2 linked regions of the Homo sapiens genome follow. The protein of the gene in region 2 purifies or fractionates together with the protein of the main gene of each other region. This does not show direct contact. Each region holds a gene or a part of one and is shown on either strand. Other genes may lie near its edges.

Evidence for each region. Proteins that work in one complex are often made in the same cells at the same time.
Region 1: the proteins of LTN1 (region 2) and NEMF purify together in Homo sapiens (affinity purification with western blotting; 2 studies listed by BioGRID, with this or other methods). This does not show direct contact.

Annotation. Positions count from the first base shown.
Region 1 is NC_000014.9:49,841,790-49,850,427, forward strand, and holds part of NEMF (ribosome quality control complex subunit NEMF), read right to left. Parts: intron 4,477-8,638; coding exon 4,351-4,476; intron 1-4,350. UniProt on the Homo sapiens protein: Key component of the ribosome quality control complex (RQC), a ribosome-associated complex that mediates the extraction of incompletely synthesized nascent chains from stalled ribosomes as well as their ubiquitin-mediated proteasomal degradation.
Region 2 is NC_000021.9:28,982,019-28,990,656, reverse strand, and holds part of LTN1 (E3 ubiquitin-protein ligase listerin), read left to right. Parts: intron 1-3,722; coding exon 3,723-3,926; intron 3,927-4,419; coding exon 4,420-4,518; intron 4,519-5,734; coding exon 5,735-5,965; intron 5,966-8,288; coding exon 8,289-8,341; intron 8,342-8,638.

The DNA.
Region 1 (8,638 bases), on a different chromosome or scaffold from region 2:
CCAAAGGCAATATGCTTAAAGATGTTCACTGAATGGCTGGGCGCAGTGGCTCACGCCTGTAATCCCAGCACTGTGGGAGGCTGAGGCGGGCAGATCACCTGAGGTCCGGAGTTCAAGACCAGCCTGACCAACATGGAGAAACCCCGTCTCTACTAAAAATACAAAATTAGCCAGGCATGGTGGCGCATGCCTGTAATCCCAGCTACTCAGGAGGCTGAGGCAGGAGAATGGCTTGAACCTGGGAGGCGGAGGTTGCTGTGAGCCGAGATCACGCCATTGCACTCCAGCCTGGGCAACAAGAGCGAAACTCCGTCTCAAAAAAAAAAGATGTTCACTGAAATTTATCTACAATAGAAAAAAAAAACCCCAAACAGCCTAAATGTAAAAGTTAGGGAAATTAAATTATGATAGCTCAACACAACAAAATAGTAGAAAGAGGTTACCTAATGGAAACAATGTTAGAAAAAAAGGAAAACATAAATAATGTTAGGTAAAACATAGCAAAGACACACAAAAAAGTTATATCCTAGAAAATGGAAGGCATATGTAGGCTAAAATGAAATTACTTCTTAAAGATTTAGAATTAAAGACTTTTTAAAATTTAATATTGCTAGATAACCTTTTCAATAAAAAAGAAGGGGGAACATAATGAAAATAAAGCTAACGAAAGAATACCACCTTCCAAATTTATTACTGACAGTGAAGATCAGAGTTACTCTACAGGTATAATTAAAATACAAAGAAGCATCCATGAAAACAGTCAAAAATGCCTTACAACTGTTTACAAGATAGTCACAGAATACGGTGGGAGTAATCCCAAATTCATCTGAAATGACAGGTTGCAATGTAAGTGGCTTCAGTAAATGTAGCCACCATTTACGTTGGTTAGAGAGATAGATAACCAGAAATTACTAAGTGCTGAAAAACTAGTAGCAGGCCAGGCGCAGTGGCTCACGCCTGTAATCCCAGCACTTTGGGAGGCCAAGGTGGGCAGATTATCTGAGGTCAGGAGTTCAAGACCAGACTGGCCAACATGGTGAATCCCTGTTTTACTAAGAGTACAAAAACTAGCTGGGCGTGGTGGCAGGTGCCTGTAATCCCAGCTACTCGGGAGGCTAAGGCAGGAGAATCGCTTGAACCCGGGAGGCGGAGGTTGCAGTGAGCCAAGATCACACCACTGCACTCCAGCCTGGCGACAGGGTGAGACTTATTCTCAAAAAAAATTAAAAAATAAAAAAAAAGAAAGAGTAAAAACTCAGGTTAGAGTAGAAAAGGACATTTACTACACAAATAATCAGCAAAGGGCTCATAATCAGATTAGATAAAGAGCTCTAAGAGATCATATCAAATGTTGCTAAGGATGTGGAGCTAAGGGAATTTTCAACATCAATGAATCTCACAGACATTATATATTGAATAAAAGAGCCAGGCGTGGTGGCTCACCCCCGTAATCCCAACACCTTAGGAGGTTGAGATGGGAAGATTGCTTGAGCCAGGGGTCCAAGGTCAGCCTGGGCAACGAAGTGAGAGTCTGTCTCTACAAAAAATAAAAAAATTGGCCAGGCATGGTGGTGCACATCTGTGGTACCAGCTACATGAAAGGCTAAGGCAAGAGGGTCACTTGAGCCCAGGAGGCCGAGTTTGCAGTAAGCCCTGATCATGCCACTGAATTCCAGCCTGGCCAACAGAGCAAGACTCTATCTCAAAAAAATAAAAAATATTGCATAAAAGAAGGCAGACCCAATGTCATGCATTGCTTAACAATGGGGATACATTCTAAGAAATGCATTTAGGCAACTTCGATGTCGTGTGAACGTAATAGAGTATACTTACACAAACCTAGACGGTGTAGCCTAATACATCCACCAAAGATATGATATAACCTATTGCTCCTAGGCTAGGAATCTGTATAGCATGTTACTGAATACTGTAGTCAACTGTAATACAATAGCAAGTATTTGTGTATCTAAGTACATCTAAATATAGAAAAAGTACAGTAAAAATATGGTATTACAACAACAGTTCCAGGCCGGGCGCAGTGGCTCATGCCTGTGATCCCAGCATTTTGGGAGGCCAAGGCGAGCAGATCACCTGAGGTCAGGAGTTTGAGAACAGTCTGGCCAATATGGTGAAACCCCATCTCTACTAAAAATACAAAAATTAGCTGGGCATGGTAGTACATGCCAGTAATACCAGCTACTCAGGAGGCTGAGGCACTAGGATTGCTTGAACCCGGGAGGCAGAGGTTGCAGTGAGCTGAGATCACACCCTTGCACTGCAGCCTGGGCAACAAAGTGAGACTCTGTATCAAAAAAAAAAAACCAAAACAAAACAAAAAAAAAACCGCAGTCCCCAGCCTTTGGCACCAGGGACCAGTTTCATGGAAGACAATTTTTCCATGGATGGGGGGTGCAGGGGTATGGTTTCCGGATGAAACTGTTCCACCTCAGATCATCAGGCATTAGATTCTCGCAAGAAGCATGCAACCTAGATCCCTTGCATGCACAGTTCACAATAGGGTTCACGCTCCTATAAGAATCTAATGCCACCACTGATCTGACAGGAGGCAGAGCTCAGGTGAGTAATGCTCACTCGCATACTGCTCACCTCCTGCCGTGTGGCCTGGTTCCACAGACCAGTTCCAGTCTGCGGCACAGGGGTTGAAGATCCCTGGTATAAAAGATTAAAAATGGAACACCTGTATAGGGCACTTACCATGAATGGAGCATGCAGGACTGAAAACTGCTCTGGGTGAGTGACAGTGAGTAAATGTGAAGGCCTGGGACATTACTGCATACTACTGTAGACTTGATAAATACTGCACACTTGGGCTACACTAAATTTGTTTTTTATTTTTTAATTTTTAAAAAAATTATGCTTACCTCAGACCAGATTAAATTTATGTATTTATTTATTTATATACATACACACGCACGCGCACGCGCGCGCACACACACACACACACACACACACACATATATTTTTTTTTTCCTTTTTGAGACTGAATCTCACTCTGTCACCTGAGCTGGAGTACAATGGCATGATCTCAGCTCACTGCAACCACTGCCTCCCAGGTTCAAGTGATTCTCCTGCCTCAGCCTCCCGAGTAGCTGGGACTACAGGCACGCACCACCACACCAGGCTAATTTTTGTATTTTTAGTAGAGATGCAGTTTTGCCACATTGGGCAGGCTGGTCTCAAACTCCTGACCTCAGGTGATCCACTCGCCTTGGCCTCCCAAAGTGCTGGGATTACAGGTGTGAGCCACCACACCTGGCCCAGATTAAGTTAGTTAGTTAGTTAGTTAGTTAGTTTATTTTTGAGACAAAGTCTTGCTCCGTTGCCCAGGCTGGAGCACAGTGACACAATCTGAGCTCACTGGAACCTCTGCCTCCCAGGTTCAAGTGATTCTCCTGCCTCAGCCTCCCGAGTAGCTGGGATTATAGGTGCCCGCCACCACGCCCAGCTAATTTTTGTATTTTTTAATAGAGACGGGGTTTTGCCATGTTGGCCAGGCTGGTCTTGAACTCCTGACCCCAGGTGATCTGACCCCAGGTGATCCGCCCTCCTCGGCCTCCCAAAATGCTAGGATTACAGGTGTGAGCCACTGTGCCCGGCCTGAGTCATTGCGCTCAGCCAAATTTATTTTTAAGATGTTTTTCTTTCTTCAATAATAAATTAACCTTTGCTTCCTGGAACTTTTTTACTTTATAAACTTTAAACTTTTTAGCTTTTTGACTCTTGTAATAACACTTAGCTTAAAACACATATCGTACAGCTGTACAATACTTTCTTTCTTTAGATCCATATTCTCTAAGCTTTTTTTCCATTTTAAATTGTTTTGTTTTTACTTTTAATGTTTTTGTTAAAAACTAACACACAAACTCACACACCAGCCTAGGCCTACACAGAGTCAGGATCAAGATGTCACTAAGCAGTAAGAATTTATTAGATCCATTACAATGTTACAGGACCAACGTTTATATGCAGTCTGTTGTTGACTGAAACATCACTATACATACAGCGCATCAGTGCATGACCGTATTTGACTATTTTCTGGTTGCATATTAGTCCTGAAATGTCAAGTACCAAATAATTTACTTCTCAGATCTTCATCTCCTACATTCATAAGGCTATTCTAAATGGCTAAAGTCTGCCTAAACTCAGACCTACAGATAAAATGAAGGTTATTACTGGAAAATTTTATTTTATTTGTGTGGCACCCATTTCCTAGGGTAGTAACAACCTTTGACACAGAAAAAAAATGTTCCCCCACTCATGTTATATAGCACTATTACAAAATGATTAATAAGAAATTTTCCTTCACCATATCCCACAAATTTAACTTACCCTATCATAGAGCTCAATGATTAAATGGTAAGCAGCTTCATCACTTCCAAATTGAAAATCTACAATTCTATCCACACCAAGCTGTTTTGCACTGACTAATCTCCGACTCTTCAAATGTTTTCGGCACTAGCAAGAGAAAGAAAAAGGCATTCATTTAGTAAAAGTGAATTCCTAACCATTTGGTATTGGTTTATAAATAAGCTTCTTTTCATTATCATCAGGAATATTTAAAACGTTGTGAATAACAGTATAGTCATAAAGTAATAGATTGCAGATGATAATCAGAGGGAAAACATTTTATTATAAACACTAACTCTGAAACAGTGTTTTATTTGCATTTTTTTAAGACAGGGTCTCACTCTGTCACCCAAACTGGAGCCCAGTGGTGTGATCATGGCTCGCTGCAGCCTCGACTTCCCTGGCTCAGGTGATCCTCCTGCATCAGCCTCCTGAGGATTGGGACCACAGGCACATGCCACTATCCCCAGCTAATTTTTTCATTATTTGTAGAGACAGGGTCTCACTATGTTGCCCAGGCTAATCTCAAACTCCTGGGCACAAGCAATCCTCCTGCCTTGGCCTCCCAAAGTGCTGGGATTACAAGCGTAAGCTACTGAGCCAGGCTTTTATTTTCAATTTTTAAGTAGAGAATGATGGACCTATAGCAAAATTTGCTTTGTTGCTTTATACCACTGCTAAATTCCTTGTTGTGGTCCTAATGACCTCACTCATAAGCCACAACCTTTATTTATTTACTTTATTTTGAGAGAGAGTCTCGCTCTGTCGCCCAGACTGGAATGCAGTGGCACAGTCTCAGCTCACTGCAACCTCCGCCTCCCAGGTTCAAGTGATTCTCCTGCCTCAGCCTCCTGAGTAGCTGAAATTACAGGCGTGTGCCACCACACCCGGCTAATTTTTCTATTTTTAGTAGAGACGGGGTTTCACCATGTTGGTCAGGCTGGTCTCGAAGTTCTGACCTCGTGATCCGCCCACCTCAGCCTCCCAAAGTGCTGGGATTACAGGCATGAGCCACTGTGCCCAGCCAACCTTTACTTATTTATTTATTTATTTATTTATTTGGAGACGGAGTCTCACTTTGTCACCCAGGCTGGAGTACAGTAGCACAATCTTGGCTCACTGCAACTTCTGCCTCCCAGGTTCAAGCAATCCTCCTGCCTCACCCTCCCAAGAGTAGCTGGGACTACAGGCGCCCACTACCACGCCTGGCTAATTTTTTGTATTTTAGTAGAGACGGGGTTTCTCCACGTTGCCCAGGCTGGTCTCGAACTCCTGAGCTCAGGCAATCTGCCCACCTCGGCCTCCCAAAGTGTTAGGATTACAGGCGTGAGCCACCACACCCAGTCCCTTTATTTTTTTTAAGTCTCTTTGATGACACTTCTAAGTATGCCAAATTTCCCTTTTGTATGCTTCATTTATGTTCAAAATTAATTAATTGTTTCCACTAATCTTCTACTTCTAATACATATCAACTATGGACCATGAGCTTATGGCTTATGGTATCCTGTAAATAGTCCACCACCTTATATCCAGTTACCCCTACCAATTCTTTTTTTTTTTTTTTTTTTTTTTTTTTTCTTTAAGAGAGTCTTTGCCAGGAGCGGTGGCTCAGGCCTGTAATCCCAACACTTTGGGAGGCCGAGGTAGGTGGATCACTTGAGGTCAGGAGTTCAAGACCAGCCTGGCCAATATGGTGAAACCCCATCTCTACTAAAAATACAAAAATTAGCTGGGCGTGCTGGCGCATGCCTGTAATCCCAGCTACTCAGGAGGCTGAGGCAAAAGAATCGCTTGAACCCAAGAGGCGGAGGTTACAGTGAGCCGAGATGACACTACTGCAATCCAGCCTGGGCAACAGAGCAAGACTCTGTCTCAAAAAAAAAAAAAAAAAAGAAAGGGACAGAGTCTCTCTGTTGCCCAGGCAAGGCTCAAACTCCTGGACTCAAGCAATCTCCCACCTTAGCCTCCCAAGTAGCTAGGATTACAAGTGCCCTGCCACTGTGCCCAGCTTATTCCTACAAACTTTACTAATATAACCCAAAGAGAATTTTCCTGGTATCGTCTCTAAGCTTTTGATAACCTATTTCAATCCAATGTAATAACTCTCATTCTTTATTAAATCCCCTTCCTCCTATCCCTGGCCATAAGGTTCTTTTTCTTATTAACAATTAAAATAATATTAGTATATCAAATCCAAATACAATTTACTTGGCAATACCTACTCTTTTAGATTACATGTACCGTCTTTTTGTACAAATATTGAAGTATGACATGGACTGGTAACAAGACTACTCTGTAGCCTCTAAAATATCTTACAATTGTTTCTAATTTTTTAATATAAAAGACCCTTTAGTTAAGACCAATAAGAAAGAATGCTTTCTTCAAGACTCAAATACGGTCTGGGTATGGCAGCTCACGCCTGTAATCCCAGCACTCTGGGAGGCCGAGGCAGGCGGATCACAACGTCAGGAGTTCAAGACCAGCCTGGCCAACATGGTGAAACCCCATCTCTACTAAAAATACAAAAATTAGCCAGGCATGGTGGCGTGTGCCTGTAATCCCAGCTACTTGGGAGGCTGAGACACGAGAATCACTTGAACCCAGGAGACTGAAGTTGCAGTGAGCCAAGACTGCGCCACTGCCCTCCAGCCTGGTGACAGAGCAAGACTCCGTCTCAAAAAAAAAAAAAAAAAAAAAGACTTAAATACGAAACAAATTTTACAGAAGTTAATCTAAGACCACCTTCAAAAAAAAGACAAAAAATCCACTCCTTGACAAAGGTTGAAAAAAAACAACAATAAACACATAAATTCATTATTAAAATTAATGCTAACATTTTCATAACTAAGAAGAGTTCTTCTCCAGACCTTATAGCCCAAATTGACTGAAATTCGCATTTTATATACTCACATAGGCAGAATAACTTCCTAGGATAAACAATCTGCTCCTCCTTAACTCAGTAGTTTTAAGAATGACCTATACTGATTTGATTAAACAGTAACCTACATGTAGGGCTATCTTTAAATCCCTAGAGGAAAATCACAATCAGTTCTTCCAGAGTCCCTGAGTAATAATTTTATTCAAGAAAAATAAAGACAAAAGGCATCATTGAAAGGACAGAAGTTCACACAAAGGAATAGTAAAAAGGGGATTATTTATCATGGAGAGTACAGATGGACACATAGTACATATTTAAAGCTTGTTTCATTTCCCTATCAACAGCTTGGTGAAATCAACCTGCTGCTGTGTGCCACAAAGCTATAGCTGTCATCCCCAAATGTGAATACTGGAACAACCACTGTGATTTATCACATAATAGACATAACTCTGCCTGTGCCATGCAACAGTAACAGCTCTTTGATTTATAAAGTGCTTAACATTGTCTGCTCCATTGAGGAAATCTTTCTATACATTTAGATTGACACGTACACCTAACCCATAGAATTCTAAGTATTTTTTAAAGTGACTGACCTATTAGTGTAGTCTGATTTGGAGATGTTTACACAATCCCAGTGTCCTATTTCATTGGCCTGTTACCTCATCCATAAAACTGAAATTGTATTTGTTCTTCACAGTCCACTGAGTTGCTAAACAACTTAAATGAAATACATATTATTCATCTGCCTTAAAAAGTGCTACACAACAGGTAGCATTATTATTGTCATTATTATTAAGGACAGGCCCCAAAAGAACTATTTTGGGTTACTATTAAATAAATTAAACTTTAATAATCTGAGAATTTTGTGAAAGCCCTTGTGATATGGAAACACTTACCTAATTTGTAATCCAAAACAGACTCTAAATTGCTGGGGGGTAAAGCTCTTCTCTGTAAAGCCTCTAATGAAATAACTCAATGCCATAACAGATACATTGCCAAAGTAAGGAGCGGAGCAGGAAGGAAATGAACATGTATGGAGTTCTAATATGTGTCAGGTATTGTTTCAGGTGCCTTTCTTTTTTTTTTAGATGGAGTCTCGCTCTGTCGCCCAGGCTGGAGTGAAACAGTGCGAACTCAGCTGACTGCAATCTCTATCTCCCAGGTTCAAGTGGTTCTCCTGCCCCATCCTCCCAAGTAGCTGGAATTACAGGTGTGTGCCACCACGCCTGGCTAGTAGAGACAGGGTTTCACCATGTTGGCTGGGCTGGCCTTGAACTTCTGACCTCAAGTGATCCACCTGCCTCAGCCTCCCAAAGTGTTGGAATTACAGGCATGAGCCACCGCACCTGGTCTGTTTTAGGTGTTTTATATATCATTTCAATTAATCCAATA
Region 2 (8,638 bases):
CACCTGTTTGTCCCCTTATTGGTGGTATTTGTTTAATTACTTGGTTAAGGTGTTGTTCATTATAAAGTTATATTTTTCCATTGGCCAATAACAAATAATATGTTAGTTTGAAACTGTGAATGTCCTGCTCTTCCACAAACTTTCACCTAATGGTTTGAGCACCCTTTGATTCTTGCTGGAATCAGTTATTACTATGGTGATTTAAAAACTTATGCTTAATCATGAAAACAACCCAACTAATGAATTAATTACTCATATCTCATTTTAAATGTGGTGAAACTGAGGTTTAGAGAAATTAGCTTGCCTAAGCTCATGTAGCCAGGAAGTTGTGGAGTTGGGATTTTAACTTTAATGTGGCAAAGTCTTCAATAGAAGACTCTGATACTGGATGTCAGGTATTCAGAGATAATAGATGTCTGCTGTTCTTGAACTATTAGTTTGATGATACAGACACATATGTAAGCAAATGTTAAAGAATTATGATGCAGGTATTAGAAGAAAGAATGTGGGAGAATGGAAGAGAATGGAGGAAGGCAAGTGTTGCAAACATGAGTTTGAAAGATGAGTAGGAGTTTGTCAGACAGTGAAAAGAAAGGAAGCGTTTTCAGGTAGAGAAAAAAGGTTATATAAAGATCAAATTGTGAAAGGCCATCACATAGATAACTTTTTTTTTTTTTTTGAGACAGAGTCTCGGGTCACTGCAACCTCCACCTCCCAGGTTCAAGCAGTTTTGTTGCCTCAGCCTCTCGAGTAGCTGGGATTACAGGCATGCACCATCACACCCGGCTAATTTTTTGTATTTTTAATAGATACAGGGTTTTGCCATGTTGGCTAGGCTGGTCTCAAACTCTTGGCCTGAAGTGATCTGCCCAAAGATACGCTCAGCCTCCTAAAGTGCTGGGATTACAGGTGTGAGCCACCATGCCCTGCCTCAGAGAACTTCGAATTCAGTTTGCTACTAGGGCATGAATGATGGCAGCATAATTTGAAGAAGGGAGAAGGAAGTGGGGCAAGGGAAGGAAAGAGTGGCAGGAGATAAGACTGGGAAAAGTTGAGGTTAGATGGTGAAAGGTCTTGTAAGTCTTCCTTGGTTTGGTCTTTGTAGACTCAGGATTGCCACCACAAATAACTCTAGAAGCTAGGCATGAAAGAGTGTAGACAGAAGTAGGCATAGTACAAAAAAAAAAATAAGTGCCATAAATAGAATTGTTTCTTAATTTTTATTGAACTATGGGTATAGCACTTAACATACAAAGATCATAAGAGTAACTATATTTTAAATTTAAAGTAGACATTAAAAAAAGATAGTGCATTTAAAAGTAACTTGTTACTTTTAAATTGGAGACTGGAAATTTGATACCTTCTCTTTTGCCCCTAGTTATCACTCCTAATTCTGTTATTTCAGCCTCAACTCCTTTAGATGTTAGCAATAATTAGTTTTTTATTCTGTTTCATAATAAAACCGTTTACACATGAGATTGTAGAAAATTCTGATACCCTAAAGTCATCATATTTAGTTTAAGAATTATAATTCACTAACTACTTCCTTTGTGGCTCTTTATTCATGTACCAATATTGAGAAAGGTGAATTGAATAATTAATATTAATTCATTTTAATAAACTTAAAAAATAGAGAACAGCTGCTTTGCCTATGGAGTAGCCATTCTTTTATTCTTTTCTTTTTTTTTTTTGAAATGGAGTTTCGCTCTTTTTGCCCAGGCTGGAGTGCAATGGCGCAATCTCGACTCACTGCAATCTCTGCCCCCTGGGTTCAAGCAATTCTCCTGCCTCAGCCTCCCAAGTAGCTGGGATTAAAGGCATGTGCCACCATGCCTGGCTAATTTTGTATTTTTAGTAGAGACGGCGTTTCACCATGTTGGCCAGGCTGGTCTTGAACTCCTGATCTCAGGTGATCTCCCTCCTCAGCCTCCCGAAGTGCTGGGATTACAGACGTGAACCACCGCGCCTGACCTATTTTCTTAATAAACTTACTTTCACTTAAAAAAAAAAATAGAGAACCTTTTTTGGAATTAGTCTTAAATGCTACAGATTGAAAACAAATGTAATGCAGGCCATCATTTTCTTTCCTGTTCACTCAGTTCAGTTTAGGAAGTAGGCCAGATTATTCCTTGTCAGATGAATTTTCCAAACACACTTTTGCTAGGTATTAGGAATTTTTTTTTTTTTTTTGAGACAGAGCCTCGCTCTGTTGCCCTGGGTGGAGTGCAGTAGCACAATCTTGACTCACTGCAACCTCAGCCTCCCAGGTTCAAGCAATTCTCATGACTCACCCTCCTGAGTAGGTGGGATTACAGGCACATGCCACCACGCCTGGCTAATTTTTGTGTTTTTGGTAGAGACAGGGTTTTGCCATGTTGCCGAGGCTGGTTTCGAACTTCAGGGCTCAAGTGATCCACCCGCCTTGACCTCCCAAAGTGTTGGGATTACAGGCATGAGCCACCTTGCCTGGCCGGTATGAGCAATTTGTTTTTTTTTGTTGTTTTTTTTTTTTTTTGAGACAGAGTCTCGCCCTGTCACCCAGGCTGGAGTGCAATGGCACAATCTTGGCTCATTGCAACCTCTGCCTTCCGGTTCAAGCGATTCTCTTGCCTCAGCCTCCCGAGTAGCTGGGATTACAGGCGTGCGCCACCACGCCCAGTTAATTTTTTGTATCTTTGGTAGAGATGGGGTTTCACCATGTTGGCCAGGCTGGTCTCGAACTCCTGACCTCGTGATCTGCCCGCCTTGGCCTTCCAAAGTGCTGAGATTACAGGCGTGAGCCACTGTGCCCGGCCGGTATGAGCAATTTGAATCACACATTTGGATAACCGTTGGCAAACATCCTTATAGAGAAATAAGAAATAGATGACTTTAGATGGGTTGTGATGTCAGCTTGGTGGTCAAACTGAAGCATTTTCTGTTTAGATAACAATAAGTTAATTTCTTTTAGCAGTTCAAATATTTTCTTTCTCTGTATCAACTCACCTCCTTTTAGTAGAAGACTACTATATTGTGTATCAGTCAAAGAAACCACTGACTATGATTCAAAACAAAGGAGTCTGTATTATAGATTGACTGTTGTATTGATTTTTATGGCTATAATAATGTAATTTTAGCCCAAAGAGGTTAGGCTAGGCTTTGGAGTGTGTGGAAATGAGTGTATCCACTCTCAAGGAACTCTCAGTCTAGAGGCAGCTATCATTAGACCTGGGCCATTGTGATTGTTTAATAAATATTTGTTCATTTAATGGGTGAATGAAAGGATGGGTTCTATTTATGAGTTCATTTTACATCATTACATAGTATACATATGTGTATACATACTATTTATATGAAAGTTAGAAATAAAAAATTCATAACAGCATTTATGAAAATTTTCCTGCATGTGATACATTCTGATTTTAAAAATTTTAATCAATTTCTTTAAAATTCTGTCATGGTCCATTATATTGATATCATGAGCCACTAATGGATTGTATCCATGGTTTACAAAACATTCTAATGTTTAAGAAACAGAATAATTTCTAGGATCAGTATTGATGGATTCTTGGCAACAAAACCATTAATCTTTGGGGAACTTTGCAATAGATGAAATTTTAGGCTAGGAAAAAAGAAAATAAAATAAAAGCTCATTCTGACCATGGGAATAGCCAAGGAATTATAAAGTTAAGTTTTGAACCCTTCCTGGACTCTGACTTTTTTCTCCGTAATTTTCTTATCAGCCTTCAAACAGTGGCCGAGCTGCAGAACTCCTTGCCAAAGAACAGGGAACAGTGCCTGGATTTATTGGTTTTGGAACATCTCAGAGTGACCTAGGCTATGTTCCTGCTATTCAAGGAGCTGAAGAAATTGACAGTCTTGTAGATTCTGATTTCCGAATGGTGCTGCGGAAACTTTCAAAGAAAGATGTCACCACAAAATTAAAAGCAAGTTTTCTTGTTTTCATAAAAATTATCAAGAAAATCCCTTTGTTAAAATAAAATGTCATTAGCATGTTTTATGTAAAGAAAAATGAACAATTTATTGCTAAGTTCTTTTATAATTGTACTTTTTTCTGACACAGAGTCTTAAACTTAGTTGATATTTATTTTCTAGGTCGTAAATTAGTTTGTTACAGTGAACTTTTTTAAAGTGCTTTGGAATTTTGGCTGTATAGTTTTTCCCATTAGGGAATGTAACTTTGACCTTGTAACTTTAAATGAGGTTTTTTTGTTTGTAGATGTTTTATTTTTAAAAAAACAACTGAAGAGTTTCTACCGTAGTAGCCTGTGAAAGAGCTCTTCAAACTAGTCTCATATGGCATAAAGAGAAATAGTGTATTCTCCTATTACATAAAATAGACAAAGCTTCCAGAACAGAATAATCTATAGCCAGTTATTATGGTTGTTAATCCTAATGATGTTAATAACTTACTTTTAGGCTATGCAGGAATTTGGAACCATGTGTACAGAGAGAGACACAGAAACTGTGAAAGGAGTTCTTCCATATTGGCCAAGAATTTTTTGCAAAATTTCACTTGTAAGTATTAAAACTTTGCTAGTTTATTTCTGTTGTATATTTTTTGGTTGGAGTCATGGAGACTCTCAAATTTATAATGTTGATTTTTGGTGAGGGTTATTAAATGTTATGTCAGCATTGTTATGCAGATTGAATTGTTAACACTTGAGAAGAGCGTGGAAATAAAAAAAGAGATTGGGGCCTGGTATGGTGGCTCATGCCTGTAATCCCAGCACTTTGGGAGGCTGAGGTGGGCAGATCACTTGAGGTCAGGAGTTTGAGACCAGCCTGGCCAACATGGTGAAACCCTGTCTCTACTAAAAATACAAAAATTAGCCGGGTGTGGTGATGGATGCCTGTAATCCCAGCTACTTGGGAGGCTGAGGCAGGAAAATCGCTTGAACCCGGTGGGGCGGAGGTTGCAGTGAGCCAAGATTGCACCACTGCACTCCAGCCTGGACAATAGAACAAGACAATGTCTTTAAAAAAAAAAAAAAAAAAGATTGGATTGTGTTGGGTTATGAAGAACATTTAGGAAGTCTGTTTTCAGAAATTAGGTTGTTACTGGAGAATTACCCAGGTGCTTTCCAGTTTTAATAAATTTTGATAGTGATTTTATTCCCTGTATATTTGCTGCAGAAGAATGAGAGTGAGTTGCTTAATTATTGAAGACCCAACTTTTTTTTTTTTTTTTTTAATTGAGACGGAGTCTCATTCTGTCACCCAGGCTGGAGTGCAGTGGCGCGATCTCTGTTCACTGCAACCTTGTCTCCTGGGTTCAAGTGATTCTCCTGCCTTAGCCTCCTGAGTAACTGGGATTACAGGTGTGTGCCACCATGCCCCGCTAATTTTTTGTATTTTTAGTAGAGACGGGGTTTCACCATGTTGGCCAGGCTGGTCTTGAACTCCTGACCGCCAATAATCCGCCTGCCTCGGCCACCGAAAGTACTGAGATTATAGGCACGAGCCACCAGGCTCGGCCTCAAGGCCCAACTTTGAATCTGTCTTGAATACAATCCTATCTCATTGGGAGAAGGGGAGAAAGAAAAATTAATAAATTATTTTACATAGTTTCTGATTTAAAAACCTCCAAATTATTGATTTAAAAAAAATGATTTCAGTTTAGCTTAATACATAGGTGAATTCTTGGTAATGGGTCATTATAGCATATCCGGAAATGTCTGTGATTGTTTTTATGGGCTAGAGCTATTTTAAATCACATTTATATTTTTAATAGGATCATGACCGTCGCGTCCGAGAAGCCACACAACAAGCTTTTGAAAAACTTATCCTTAAAGTAAAGAAACAGTTGGCTCCCTACTTAAAAAGTTTAATGGGATATTGGCTAATGGCTCAGTGTGATACTTACACACCAGCTGCGTTTGCAGCAAAAGATGCATTTGAAGCGGCTTTTCCTCCAAGCAAGCAACCTGAAGCCATAGCATTTTGTAAGGATGAAATTACAAGTGTAAGTTCTGGAATCATTCTGAATCTATTTTTTTTTTTTAAGTATTTAAGGGTTATAAGCATAATGACAGCTCTTTTACTTGGGATTGTAGGGGAATGAGTAAGTAGAGTATTTCCAACTGAAGGTTGCCTTTTTAAAATTCTGTTTAGTTAAATAACCATTTTGGATCTTTAACAAGATTAACATTTTGGATTGGATCTTTCTACAGTATTTAAATTTTCCATTTTAATTTTGAAGTCTTTATTATATTTTTAAAAAGTAGATGTTTTATGTAATCTAAACAAGTAATATATCTAAAAATAAATCTAAAATTATTTTCTCTCGTGTTTCCATATCAATATATATATATATACAGATCTAACTTAGTGTCTTTTTCTTTTTATTGGCTCTCTGGTATTACTATACATGGATGTACTGTAGTTTATTTAACTTTTTAGATTAATATACATTTGGATTTTTTTCCAATTTTTATCATAACAAATGCTATTTCAGTAAACATTCTTGAGTAGATCTCTTCATACCCTTGTGGGAGTGATACTTACTAGAACTTCTAGTAAGCATATGTTGGGCCAAAGAATAAGAACATTAAAATTTTTTATAATGATAAATGGCCCTTCAAAAGGCCAAACAAATTTATACTCCCATTTTCAGATAAAGTTTCTCCACACTGGGCTAACACTTTTGCCATAACTTTCTCATAAAAAGTTACCAGCCATACCTGTTTGTGGCTTTCAGTGTGTCTGTTTCTAGTAGTGTCTCATTTCTTCCCCCTTCATTTTCTATTCCCAATATATGGACTAGAAAAACCAGACAACAAAGTTGTTAGAATTATATTGAGAAATAAAAGTAGATGAAGTAGAAGTGAGGAGGGAATTGATAATTTTTTAAAAAATCTATGCTTGCATTTATTCCCTTATTTAGTACTCCTGTGTTTCCACAACACCCTGTGTATAACCCTACTTAAACATTTCCATCTGACCCTCTCCCCCTGCTTTCCTTCCTCCTTTCAATTAGCCATCCTTCCTGTGGCTCTCCATTACACTTTTAAGTTCAAATTTCTTGTCTTGACATACAAGGCTCTGCATGATCTGGTCCCTGCTTCCCTATCTAATCTCTTCACCCAGCACTCCCCAACACATAACTTGATTGTAGTACCTCATTTAGGTTCTTCCATTCTTCATTTCTCAGGTGTACCAAGCGTGTTTTTCTAGAGAGAGGGTTTGTAGCTTTAATCATATGCTCAAATGGAGTTTTCTAACCCATCTGTAGCATAAGAATCATTGGTTGATTTAAAATGCCAAGTTATAAACGTTACAAGAGTGAAGTGTCATGAGTTTGGACGCTAAGAGCTTTAGGAAATGGATTTTGAGACAACTAGTTTGGCTCTTCATAGGCTTTAGAAAATAAATTTGTTCTTGGCTTTGTCATGGATGGATAACTAATCATTGAACATTGGGTTATTTCTTCCATTTTATTTTCCCTTTAGTTGGCTATGTTACAGTTCATTACAGCTGTTGGCATTGAACTGTCTCCAGTTCCAAACCCATGTATTAGAGAGGAGTTAGGCAAATGAAAATCAAAATGTCAGCATTATAGATAGTATATCATACTGTCTATAAGACATGGGCTCTGGGTCACACCATTGGTTCTAGTCCCACTCTGCCATCAGCTAGCAACTAGGTGTGTGACCTTGGGCAAGTTTCTGTGCCTTCATTTCATAATCTATAAAGCAGGAATTAACTTGTACTTCATGGAGTTCTGAGGATTGATTTAGTTAATGCCTAAAATGTGCTCAAAGCAATACCTGGCACATGCAAAAGCTCAATAAGTGTTAGTTATTGTTATTGCTGATAAAGCAGTTACTGGAACAGTGGACTCCCTTGCACTGCACCCCAGGAGGAAACAGACTTCCGTATATTTGAAAACCTCATACCTTCCTCTGTGATGGAGCAGAGCACAATGTATGGTGTTCTTTGTGGGCAAGCAGGCTTACAGAAAGAGGGGAGAGGAAAGCAGAGCCTAATTTATCTCCCAGATTCACATTCACTTCATTGCTGTGTGAAAGAGAAATGGAGGAACAAGTGGTCAGGAGTATTTATAGGTGCGTGGGGAAGAAGTATCTAAAGCAGCTAACCTTGGGAATTGATAGGAAAAGGAAAATTGGTAAAATTCAAACCTTTCAGTTTTGCTATTTGATTCTGCTCTTAGGTAAGATGATGTTTATGGGGATTTTTAAAAAGTGGATTTTATTTAACTAGGCTCTGTCTGTTCACCATTGACAGTTCAGTAAAACCAAAGGCTTTGGTATTTCCCCCCTTTGTAGGTGCTGCAGGATCATCTTATAAAAGAAACACCTGATACACTCAGTGACCCGCAGTAAGTTGTATTGTTTCATTGTAACTCATGTTAAGGATTTGTTTCACTCATAAGTAATCAGATGATTTCAATGTGACTTTTTGTTTTTGTTTTTTTTTTGAGACAGAGTCTCACTCTGTCACCCAGGCTGGATTGCAGTGGCGCAGTCTCAGCTCACTGCAACCTCCAGCTTCTGGGTTCAAATGATTCTCATGCCTAAGCCTCTCGAGTAGCTGGGATTATAGGCATGCACCACTACACCTGGCTAATTTTTTTGTATTTTTTATAGAGATGGGGTTTCACCATGTTGGTCAAGCT